Regions from separate parts of the Homo sapiens genome. Here regions 2 and 3 are each linked to region 1. The links come from fine-mapping of genetic effects on gene expression. A gene starts in region 1. Each other region holds a variant in brackets. All regions are shown on one strand. Distances are from middle to middle.

Region 1 (4,214 bases):
TCAGTGTGGAGAAAACAGGAAAAGGAGAAGTTCCCTGCAGAGAAAGAAATGCGCTAACCCTCCCTCTTTGGGGGCCAGGGTTGGGAACTAAAGGTACTCCCACCTGCATTCCAATTCTGGCTAAATAGGGGAGTCCTTGGCTGCTACAGCAGGCCTCTCCTGACGGCCTGGCAGGGTTAAGAAGGGCGGCAAGGGCACCCACCCTGCAGTGAGTTCCCCGTGTTCCTTGAAACGGAGCGGGGCAGGGCCCCTGAGGGGTGTCTTACTTTGCAGCCATACTGCAGCGCCAGCTTGTTGAGGCTGTCCTCCTGGGCCAGCTCCCGCTGCAGCAGCACCACGTCACCTGCTCCCGCCTGGGGAGGCTGGTGGACACCGCTCTTGTGGCGCTCCTTGCCCCGGGGCCGCAAAACCACACGGTGAGACTCTTCTTCAGAAGAGTCCCCCGAGTCCCCACTGCCATTCTTAAACATGTATACGTGGCTGGTCGGAGTCCCACACACAACAGCTGGGCCTTGGAAGGTCTTGGTTAACAATTCCTCGTGCCTCATTTTCTTCACTGAAAATCAAGCCGGAGGGTTAATTCCACAGAAGACATAATCATCCCTCCACCGCCTCGTTTAAAGAGAAGTGTCTTGTTAGAGAGTATTCCTTTTCCTAATCGCTGCAAATACTCAGCATACATCATCAACAGAAAAAAAAGAATGTGCTTATGCTGGCTGAGATGGAAGAAGATAGGCAGAATAAAAACCCTTTGTTTTTTCTAATCGCATACGTTTTGTGCAGAAAACGAACCCCGCCCCTGTTCCTCATCCATAGCTGTCTCCCCTAAACCCACATCTGTAAAGAAACAACTACTTTTGCTCTCAGAGTAGTAAGTTGAGATCCTTGCAATGGCAAGTAAGGGCTGCCGCCAGCCTCCGCGCACTCAGAATCTTCAACTCAGAAGCTTTGCACAATAATTTTGTATTCAATATTTTACACATTGCAAAGTATCTTCACTAAGAAGGTCAGCGCTAAGGACTCTTGCTCAGAACTGTGGGGCTAAACTGCTCTTACTTTGACACAGTTTAACTCACAGTATGTGGGGCAAGCTACGGGGAGAACTCATGCCTGTCAGCCGGAGAAAAGCGTCCAGTTTGCTCACGGGTCACTTTGCATTCATTACATCCCCATTGTCTGGTTTTTATTTTCCCCTTGAGTCAACAGCCAAAGCCGCAAGACCCCTGTTCCTCTCTCCAGATTGTTCGCGTGAGATTCCAGAAACGAAATCTCAAACACGCGGGCTGACAACTTCAGAAAAAGGTGGCTTCGGAGCCACAGGGGAGCAGCCCGTACGGGGACAGCCTGCGGCCCCAGCTCGACCCCCTACTCCCCGCCCACGCCTTCGAGGGTCACAGGCCCACACCCCGCTCCGCGCGCTCCTGAGCCTGCCCGGAGGCGGGAGGCGGCCGGCGGTCCTCGGGGGGTTGAGGGTCACCTGCAGGACCACGGCGGCAGCCCGGGGACGGGGCCAGCCTTCGCGTCCGAGCTCAGGGGCGGCGGCAGCAGCTCCAGGCCCGCTTCCCTCCAAGTCCCTTCTGCGAAAAGATGGGGCACCTCAACAAGAGCTGACAGGAAAATGGGGAGCGGCCCGGCCCCAGGGCTCCACGGCTCCACGGGCGGGGCCCTAACATTCCAGAGGGCAGAACCTCTGACCTCTGACCCCCAACCCTAGCCACCTGGGGCCAGCCCACGACAGTCGCGGTCACCGCCCCTCCAGCTGGAGCGTCCCCCTAGGAGCCCGGGGAGGGGCGGCCCGCCCGCGAACCCTCGAGCGAGGCCAGGTCGCCGTACCGCCATGAGCCCGCGCGGCTCCCTAGCCAGACCGCGGCCCCCTCGTCCAGGCCCCGGTACCTCAGCGCCCAGGCTCCGCCGCGACCGGCGACCGGCGACTCGCGACCCGCGACCCGCGACCCGCAGCTGCCACCGCGCCTGCGGATTGGCTACGAACATCAGCAGGGCCCCCCTGGGGGCGGGACTGGGGAGGCAGCCAATGAAGTCAGCGCTGGGCGGGCACTGGAGCGAGCCTGGCTGCGCGGAGAGCTCATCCCGGGACCACAGGGCCCGGGGCGGGGCTCGGGGCGGGGCTCGGGGCGGGGCTCGACAGGGTTCCACACCCCGGAAGTGGCCCTCGCCCCGCCCACCCGCCTACCAGGTCTACCCGCGCGGGCCCTGGCTTGTTTTCGCGTCTGTTCGGAGTAATAAGGCACCTCAGCTCCTCCCTCCCAAAGTGCTTGGCTTTCTGCTGAGCCGCAGCTTTCTCGCCCGTAAAGAGGCCTTTGACCCCACTTGTGGGTAATGATCTGTAGCTGTGACTCGGGGTGGATTCCAGTAGCGTGGGGTCCCCTGAGCCCTCCTGCGGGGAAGGGCTGGGCGCAGATGGGCGAGGGGTCTTTCTGCGGCGGGATCTGCGCTCCTGGGCCTTTGAGGGCCGCACCAGGGGAGGCATTGCCCCACCCCGAGAAGAAAACAGAAATCCACGAGTGTAAAACATGGATGCGGACAACAGGGACCAAGAAAACTTAAGTCGTGTTTATCAAATGTCAGGTGGCCGAGGATTTCTTAAGATGAAAAGTGGTGGAAGAATTCTCACACACTGGCCGGGCGCGGTGGCTCACGCCCGTAATCCCAGCACTTTGGGAGGCCGAGGCTGGTGGATCACGAGGTCAGGAGTTCGAGACCAGCCTGGCCAAGATGGTGAAACCCCGTCTCTACTAAAAAAATAAAAATAAAAAAAAATAAAAAAGTTAGCCGGGCATGGTGGCGGGCGCCTGTAATCCCAGCTACTCAGGAGGCTGAGACAGAGGATTGCTTGAACCCGGAGGCGGAGGTTGCAGTGAGCCGAGATCGTGCCACTGCACTCCAGCCTGGGCAACAGAGGGAGACTCCATCTCAAAAAAAAACAAAAACAAAAACCTCACACACTAAGGCACAAAGTTCAGAGCTTCTACTTAAAAAGGAAAACCAAAATTAAAAAGCAGATAACCTAGGGAAAATAAACTGAACACAACAAAGGATTAAAATCCTTCGCTGAGAGAGACTTCATATGAATAGGAAAGATGCTAAGACCTCAGCAGGTCTGAGGGAGACCTCAGAGAGACAGGAGCAGATAATTCAGCAAACAATGCAAATGGTCAACAGGTTGAAAATGTTTTTAACCCTCACTTGCAATCAGATTAAACAACAAAGCAAACATTAAAACAAGATCTCACAAACCTTTTCCCACTAATAGGATTTGACTGTGTCCACACCCAAAACTCATCTTGAATTGTAGCTCCCACAGTTTCCACCTGTTGTGGGAGGGACCTGGTGGGAGGTGATTGAATCATGGGAGCAGGTGTTTTCTGTGCTGTTCTCCAGATAGCGAATGAGTCTCACTAGATTTGATGGTTTTATAAAGGGAAGTTGCCCTGCACAAGTTCTTTTCTTCTATCTGCTGCCATGTGAGATGCACCTTTCACCTTCAGCCATTATTGTGAGGCCTCCCCAGCCAGGTGGAACTGTGAGTCCATTAAACCTCTTTCTTTTGCCCAGTCTCGGGTATGTGTTTATCAGCAGGATGAAAACGGACTAATACACCCACTTAAACTAAAAGTCAAATTGTTAATCTTCGTGGACAAAGCCCAAAATGGTCTGGACTCCAGGACTTACCCTCCCCTAACCCCCAGGGTTCTCAAGACTCTGGCCTTGGAATGAGAGTGACATCATCAGCTTCCCTGGTTCTGATGTTTTTGGACCTGCACTGAACCATATTATCTGCATCCCAGGGTCTCCAGCTTGCAGACCCACCTGTCCCGGGACTTTCAGTCTCCTTAATTGTGTGAGCCAAGTCTAATCTCCTCTCTCTCACTCACTCACTTTGTGTCTCTCTCTATAGGTAGAAATAGATATATAGATAGATAGACAGATATCTCCTATTGGTAGGTAGGTAGGTAGATAGATAGATAGATAGATAGATAGATAGATAGATAGATAGATTAGATAGCTCCTATCAGTTCTGTCTCTCTGGAGGACTTGACTCTGTATCTGTAGATAGGTAGATATCTCCTATCGGTTCTGTCTCTCTGGAGGACCTGACTCTGTATCTGTAGATAGATAGGTATCTCCTATTGGTTCTGTCTCTCTGGAGAACCTAATACAGGCTTCAAGGCTCCTTCTCTCAAGCTGCTTGCATT
Region 2 (4,214 bases), 480 kb after region 1:
CCATCCTTCAAGACTATCTTCTGGAGGAGCATGGGATTGCATACGCACTTTTATTGGCCACTTCTTAATGGTACTGCTGACCTGGCCATGCTCTATTCTTCCGGGCACTGGAAATCACAGAATGTTCTAGGTTCACTTGCTCGGCCCACCATCCACGCAGGAGGCTGAAATCATTTCTTAATGGTATCTGTATTAGTTCCTTAGCTAGTCATCCCAATTCCAAATACGCACAAGCGACACGGCACACTTCCTGAGACGGTCCTCGATTATCACTATGAGCACAACGACACCATGAAAGAGTAAAGCTTTGCTGTTGCACTGTCCCGTGACAAGTTCATTACTGCCCTGCAGAGACAACTCTCTTTTAGGAGGAAACAACTGCCCATTCTGCTCTATTGTCCCATAGATCTTTTACACCTCCATTTGGTATCATGAAATAAAGACTAATTCCAACCCTCTCAATACAGAATCTCCCATCCAAAAACATAACAACCCAAGAATGTGGACTGCTGTTTCCTGACCCCTGCACTGTGCCTGGCAGGTTCCGGCTACAGCCAGAGGCAGCCCTCATGCCTGCGTTTGGAACGCAGTAGCAATACTAAATCAGACAGACTGGCGAGGCCAGCAATTAAACCAGAAGTTGGTGAAGCAAACTTCCCAAAGTGAAGCAAGATGTTGATGTGGAAGATCAGCTGCTTGTGAGATGAGCTGACGATTTTCCTGGACTCTTTGTTAGATTTCATGTCTGGATCTCGTCTGGAACATCTACCAGATGGATTAGGGCCCGAATGTCTGGCGTTCTTCTGATAGCTCCAGCCTTGTAACTGTCCCATTGTCATGGCAGAAGGAACCTCACTGCTAGCCTTGATTTCAGTATGACCGATTCTCCTTCATTATCTGAGCTTGTGCACTATAGACAACTCCACGTGGAGTCTTTGCATGGCCAACAGAGAAGTTGACAGCCCCTAAGATACCTGCCCTGGTCACTGCTGCCCTTGGGTAACAAGTTGGCCTTCTGGCTGATAGTCAGGGAAGTCTAGGGCTGGCCTGGCCTAAGTGACTCAGTCAGCAGACCCTGGAGTGCCCTTCTTGGTCCCTCCCCAGGTGTAAGGATGATGCACAAGGCCCCTGGGCTGCTCTGTAGGTAAGGGCAAATGGGCCTCTGCAAAGGGAGCTGCTAGTGTATTTCCCTTCTCCCGCTCGAAGACACAAGTATCAAAACATCCTGCTGCTGGCAGGATGGCCAGCGACCTCCAAGACACCATTTGCCTGAGGATGAATAACTCAAACTCAGAGTTTAGGTGTCGCTGACTCTCCCCAGGAGAACCAAGACTGTGCTTACAAGAGCAGAGCTGACTCGGGAGTCCCTGTTCCTAACATATCCTCAGCTCCCTTGGCCATTCTTGGGAATGTAAGCCACAGGGAGATTTCTCTTTGTGCCAGCAGAGTCTGAGCGGGGTGAGAAGGGCAGGCTCTGGACTGGGGTCTGCATTTGAGTCTCCCTCTGCCACTTCCCACCTGGGTGACTATGGCAATTGTTTCATCTCCCCAAGCCTTGTGCCCCCTTTTGTAAGATGAGATGAACACCTACCTCGTGGAATTGAGGATTAAATGAATAATGAGAGAAGAAGCAATGTTCAGAGTAAACCCTGAACAAATATTATCTAACACTGCAATTAGTTTGACCAAGTCCAAATTTTTTCTTAAAGTTTAACAGAAAGTATTTCTCAAGCCAAAACTCTGTGCCAAAAGGCACAGGACAATTTCACAATGATCGGCAGTTTAGTTGCCAGCGTAGAGGCTGTGAACCTCTAAATGCTTTTATCAACATGACATTTGGAAAGCTGAAGAACAGCAAAGAGCTGGGGACTGGGAAAACACCACCTTCACCGGCATCAGAGGCCACTCTCTTTATCTGCGCTGGGGGCCAGGACAAGGTTGGCCACGACAAGATACCAGCGTATTACAACGTCTGGAACCGCACTGTGCCTCCTTACCTTTGCTCTCCTTGCCTGACCTGGATTTTGCGCTGACTGCCTTTAAAGACAAGCTCACGGAACCCTTTTTCCCGATGCTGACACCTATCCTGACACAGTCTGCTGTCTACCAAGCTACCGGGATGCTTTATCCAGAGGCCTATGGCGCCCACCTTGGTTAGGTCCTGACGTTCCAGGCCCACCTAACAATTCACCCCTGCTCATCAAGGGGAAAGAGAACTCTTCACAAAACTTTTTCAGATTTTGAGATAGGTGAATTCATAATAATTAAGTAACAATATTTTACTAAGATTAGATTCGAAACACACATTGAATG[C/T]ACTTCTTGGAAACATCACATGTTCTTCTGTTTTGTGAGGTCAGGGTGCCTTCCTGCTCTAGACTTCCCATGTATTTAATCAAACACAAGTCTAAAAATAATAAAATTAGTTTCCTGAAGCTGAAAATGCTGTTTTGAAGAGGAAGAGTTGATATTAAATTTATAACTAGACAACAGGGACATGAGACATGGGTTTGTGTTTCAGCAACATCTTTCTGATAGGAAAAATAAACAGGAGACTTCATGTTCCACAATATAAAATACCTGTGTTTCCCACCAAAATGTCATCTCGGACAAGGCAGGCAAGGAACAGTCTTTTCAATTAGTGGTACTAGGACAACTGGATATCCATATGCAAGAAAATGAATTTAGACCCCTACTTCGCATCATACACAAAAATTAACTCAGAGGGGATCACAGACCTAAACGTAAGACTGAAAATATAAAACTCTTAGAAGCAGTTTGGGAGGACAAGGCAGGCGGACCACCTGAGGTCCAGGAGTTCAAGACCAGCCTGGCCAACACGGGAAAACCCTGTCTCTACTAAAAATACAAAAAATTAGGTGGGCGTGGTGGTGGGTGCCTATATTCCCAGCTACTCGGGAGGCTGAGGCAGGAGAATCGCTTGAATCCGGGAGGCGGAGGCTGCAGTGAGCCGAGATCATGCCATTGCACTCCAGCCTGGGGCGTCAGAGCAAGACTCTTCTCAAAAACAAACAAAACAAAAAAGTAAATATTTGTGATCCTGGGTTAGGCAATGATTTCATAGGTATGATACCAAAAGTACAAGTGATAAAAAATGACTACATCAAAGTTGAAATTTTTTATGCTTCGGAAGATACCATCAAGAAAGTGAAAAGGTTCCCACAGTGGGAAATGATATTTGCCAATCATCTATCTGGTAAGTGACTTTTACCCAGAATACATGAAGAATCCTTACAAGTCTGTACACCATATATTTCAAAACAGCTAAAAGAGGAAGGAAAAAAGGAATGACTGAATGATTGACTGATTAACAGGGTCTCACTGTGAAGTGCTGGACTGCAGTGCTACAATCAGTGCTCACTGCCGCCTTGACCTCCCGGGCTCAGGGCATCCTCCCACCTCAGCCTCCCAAGTGGCTGGGACTACAGGTGCACACCACCATGCCCAGCTAATTTTCTGTAGATACAGGGTTTCACCATGTTGCCCAGGCTAGTCTCAAACTCCTGGGCTCAAGTGATCTGCCCACCTCAGCCTCCCAAAGGGCTGGGACTGCAGGCGTGAGCCACTGCACTCGGCCAAACAGACGATTTTAAATTTTCTCACCACAAGGAAATTATAAATATTTGAGATGACAGATATGCTAACTAGCCTGATTTGATCATTCCACAATGTAACATGTACTGAAACATACTGCACCCCATAAATACATACAATTATGGTTTGTCATTTAAAAATAAAATTCTTGGGAAGAATCCAACACCACCTCTCAGCAAAAAAAATTATTCCAACTCAATAAAAACCAAACACAATTTTTGAATGGGCAAATGATCTAAATAGACATTTTTCCAAAGCAGAAATATGTGTGGTCAATAAGCATGGGAAAATATGTTCAACATCAGCCATTAGAGAAAGGCAAATCAAAACCACAATAAGATACTACTTCACACCCACCAGAATGACTATAATCAAAAAGATGGGTGTTGGCAAGAATGCAGAGAAAACAGAATCTTCCTACACTGCTGACAGGAATGTAAAACGGTGTAGACACTCCCCATAGGAAAAGCGTTTGGCAGTGTCTCAAAATATTCAACCTAGAATTACCATCTGATTCAAGCAATTCCATTCCTAGTCACATATACGAAAGAACTGAAAACGTGTCCCCATAAAAACTCAAACATGAATATTTATGGAAACAT
Region 3 (4,214 bases), 20 kb before region 1:
TCAGTCAGGCTCCATAGGATTTGTGTGACTGATCCCAGCCCAATGCACACACCAAACCTCATTCACAAAGAGAATGTTCCGTATGGGCAGGGTGTAAGGATATAAGCAAAGAGGATTTACAGTGGCGCCCAGATGAGGCCAGACATCCCTGACAGCCGGGAGAAAGAACAGGGCTTTTGTGGAACCAGGATGACAGCAGACCCATGGAGCAGTTGGAGGAGAGTGTCCCAAGAGAGGGGACAACATAGCAGACCCAGCTGGCCTCCATGAAGACTGGCTGCCTTGCCTGTGCTCTGGGCAGTAGGAATACCCCAGGCCCCTAGCCTCTGCCCAGGAAGTCCCCAGAGAGCCTGAGCTCAGCAGTCCCTTTCCCTCATCCATTCTGAAGTAACTGCACAGTGAGGATTGTTGTCAGTGGTCTTCTTAGGAATTATGTCATGGAAAAAGCAGCAGAGTATCTCAGGGAAATTTGCCTACACAGGATTTGGCCCTCAGGCCTGTCCTGAGCATCCTAAATGAATGCACTAAAAATAGTCCTGGAAAAGCAAGTGGAAAGGGCTCAGAGCCCAGGCCCGGGGAACAGCCTGTTTGCGTCCTCCTCTACTGCTCTCAGCCAGCCCCTCATTTCCTCATCTGGAAAATGGGGATGGTGCGACTTGCACCTTAGAGGTGTTGCGAGGATGAGCGATGTTGTGCCCTGTCACAGGGCCAGAGCAGATGGGGAGCAGATGCTGAGGAAGAAGAGGCGGTGAGCAGATGAGGCTGCTGTTCCTCTGTCTTTCTGGTCCCTGCACAGCATTAAGACACTGACATTGTTTTGTATACTTTAGCTGCAAAAGTACCAACGTTGTGGGTAACAGAACCAAGTAACGTAAGGGCTCAACGGTACTGTTTTCTTTCCTCCTAGGAAGATGGGATTTCCTTTTGTGCCAAGCACTGAAGGAAACGACCCAAACCAGTCTTGGGGAACTCTGATAAGATTTCAGACTCTGGGCCCTTTTCCATCAGGCAGTGTCTCTACTGTATCATCCCAGTTTTGCAGAGGTACTTGCAAGCCATCTGACCTCTCTCTTTTTTTTCCTTCAGTGCTGGAGGGCAGTTATCTCAGGGTTCCAATTTATCCATTAATACCAACCAAAACATCAGCATCAAGTCCGAACCGATTTCACCTCCTCGGGATCGTATGACCCCATCGGGCTTCCAGCAGCAGCAGCAGCAGCAGCAGCAGCAGCAGCCGCCGCCACCACCGCAGCCCCAGCCACAACCCCCGCAGCCCCAGCCCCGACAGGAAATGGGGCGCTCCCCTGTGGACAGTCTGAGCAGCTCTAGTAGCTCCTATGATGGCAGTGATCGGGAGGATCCACGGGGCGACTTCCATTCTCCAATTGTGCTTGGCCGACCCCCAAACACTGAGGACAGAGAAAGCCCTTCTGTAAAGCGAATGAGGATGGACGCGTGGGTGACCTAAGGCTTCCAAGCTGATGTTTGTACTTTTGTGTTACTGCAGTGACCTGCCCTACATATCTAAATCGGTAAATAAGGACATGAGTTAAATATATTTATATGTACATACATATATATATCCCTTTACATATATATGTATGTGGGTGTGAGTGTGTATGTGTGGGTGTGTGTTACATACACAGAATCAGGCACTTACCTGCAAACTCCTTGTAGGTCTGCAGATGTGTGTCCCATGGCAGACAAAGCACCCTGTAGGCACAGACAAGTCTGGCACTTCCTTGGACTACTTGTTTCGTAAAGATAACCAGTTTTTGCAGAGAAACGTGTACCCATATATAATTCTCCCACACTAGCTTGCAGAAACCTAGAGGGCCCCCTACTTGTTTTATTTAACTGTGCAGTGACTGTAGTTACTTAAGAGAAAATGCTTTGTAGAACAGAGCAGTAGAAAAGCAGGAACCAAGAAAGCAATACTGTACATAAAATGTCATTTATATTTTCCAACCTGGCATGGGTGTCTGTTGCAAAGGGGTGCATGGGAAAGGGCTGTTGATATTAAAAACAAACAAAACAAAAA[AG/A]CCCCACACATAACTGTTTTGCACGTGCAAAAATGTATTGGGTCAAGAAGTGATCTTTAGCTAATAAAGAAAGAGAATAGAAAACACGCATGAGATATTCAGAAAATACTAGCCTAGAAATATAGAGCATTAACAAAGTAAAATTAATATATTAAGTTATAATTGGAATATGTCAGAAGTTTCTTTTTACATTCATATCTTAAAAATTAAAGAAACTGATTTTAGCTCATGTATATTTTATATGAAAGAAAACACCCTTATGAATTGATGACTATATATAAAATTATATTCACTACTTTTGAACACATTCTGCTATGAATTATTTATATAAGCCAAAGCTATATGTTGTAACTTTTTTTTAGAGAATAGCTTTATCTTGGTTTAACTCTTTAGTTTTATTTTAAGAGGGGAAAACAAAAATATCTTGCAAGCAGAACCTTGGAAAAAAAAAGCCATGAACACTTATTCTAAATGTAAATTAAAAGTTGAGCCAAACTCTTTGTGTATATAGCATCTTAAATATATTATCACCTTTGATGTAAGTACCTATGTATTGTATGGTCACCAGATTAAAAAGTATATTTTTGTGGATTGCCGCCAATCTGGGGGGAAAAGGCGAGGTCCTTTATTAAGTATTCACTGTTTAATATTTACTATTTTGTTAAATATACTGTACTTTGGATTTTAATTATTAGCCCAGTTTTTTCAGAGGATTGTATAAAGGGGTTTCTCCCCTCACTGGTGGTGAATGTGTGATGTTACATTGTAATCTTTGTGCTGTATGGGTTGAGCATCATTATATATTTTGTATGTGTACATAAATAGCAAAGTGGCAAAAAAAATTGGTGTTAAGTTCATCCTGCATAAGTATAAAATGTGTTGTAACAGATTTTGTAAGGCATTATTTAAAACTTGCCTTTTGTGAGGAAAAAATGTAGTAGAAAAAGCTGACCTAATTTAATTAATATTAGAGAAAATGGCAAAATAGTAGATGAGCACAAAGGTTTTATAAGTGGTAAATGATTAGGGGAAAATAATCATGGGGAAAGGGATCTTTTTTCCTTGACCCTCTGAAAACAGAACGATGCAGCTGGTTACAAAATCCTACCGTTATCAGCTCTTCTGCACATTGCAGTGATGCTTTGGTATGCGGGGAGAAACACTCTTAGGGTGCTGGTCCTTGGCATGACTCTTGCCATTCTAATTGGAATTAGTGCCACCCTCAGCTTGGATTTTGAACAAGGCCTTATTCTTTCAGGAAGACAACTAATGGATGATAGCAAGTTCATCCACTTACTGGGCTTGTGCCATGAGCAAAATTCAAAGTCCTGTATATCTTTCATTGTAGATTTTTAAATACTCCTTTTCCTAAAAAACTCAAGGGTTTAAAAATTGCTATTTTATATTTTAAATGATATTGAGCAGCTACCTACAATTTCTATGTACATTTTGTTCCCCCCCCCCCACCCCCCCCCCAAATTACGTTCCTTTTGACATTTTCCTCATCTGCTGTTTGTGACAAGTCATCAGCCAGATTTCCTGACTGACACATAGGTATGATCAGTGCAGGAGAGACCTGCGCACCACAGGCTGCAAACTGGAGGTTCTGTTCTCATGGCAGTTTGGGCAGTAACTTTTGAGAGAGGCCAAAAAAAGGAGGATGACATGCTGTCTCCTCTCTTCAGTATAGACATTAGGCTCTTATTCAGAAAGGATTTTTCTTTAAAAATGTACTTACTTTACTGAACTACTTACAGGCACATTTCTTCATAAGGCCACACCTAATCCAAACAAGACAGTCTCCCAACACTGAAGTTCCAAAATAATCCTTACCACTTTGTAAACCATTTATAGCTTTGAAAGTGTTAAGTGATTCCTTCGTTATTATTTATGCATGTTCATGAACTTCTGCTGTACATTGGAATAGGAGTTAACACATTCACATTTACTGTCTATTTTCTTGTGTGCCTTATGAGATGGCTTTTCTGACTGTATCTCAATAGTCTTTCTTTCTATGCAGGTTTATAATCAGTACAACTACTGTTTTCTAAAATACTACTACTCAAGGCTCGGAGTTTGTATTTAAATTACACTGACCAAGTAACAATGTATTCCATTTCAGGAACTGAATATTTGACTGTTAACCTTTTTCCCATACGTCCAGTGTGGCAT

The links. PIP is the estimated chance that this variant, and not a neighbour inherited with it, causes the effect.
Region 2: its variant is the best candidate, but not a certain one, in a credible set for the expression of LYSMD4 in pancreas (GTEx, PIP 0.78).
Region 3: its variant is the best candidate, but not a certain one, in a credible set for the expression of LYSMD4 in lymphoblastoid cells (GTEx, PIP 0.53).

What each region holds. Positions count from the first base shown.
Region 1 is chr15:99,731,452-99,735,665 of GRCh38, forward strand. It overlaps LYSMD4 (LysM domain containing 4), which reads right to left and starts at 1,986. Exons shown (of 3, transcript NM_001284417.2): 1 at 1,894-1,986; 2 at 267-556. The coding sequence starts at 548. RefSeq lists silencers at 1,436-1,545, 1,586-2,315.
Region 2 is chr15:100,214,578-100,218,791 of GRCh38, forward strand. All of the region lies in intron 7 of ADAMTS17 (ADAM metallopeptidase with thrombospondin type 1 motif 17), which reads right to left. Among named protein-coding and RNA genes, the nearest start is that of ADAMTS17, 130 kb to the right of the region's middle. The variant C/T (reference allele first, on the strand shown) is at 2,314.
Region 3 is chr15:99,711,304-99,715,517 of GRCh38, forward strand. It overlaps MEF2A (myocyte enhancer factor 2A), which reads left to right. Exons shown (of 12, transcript NM_001319206.4): 12 at 1,087-4,214. The coding sequence ends at 1,468. Among named protein-coding and RNA genes, the nearest start is that of LYSMD4, 20 kb to the right of the region's middle. The variant AG/A (reference allele first, on the strand shown) is at 2,042.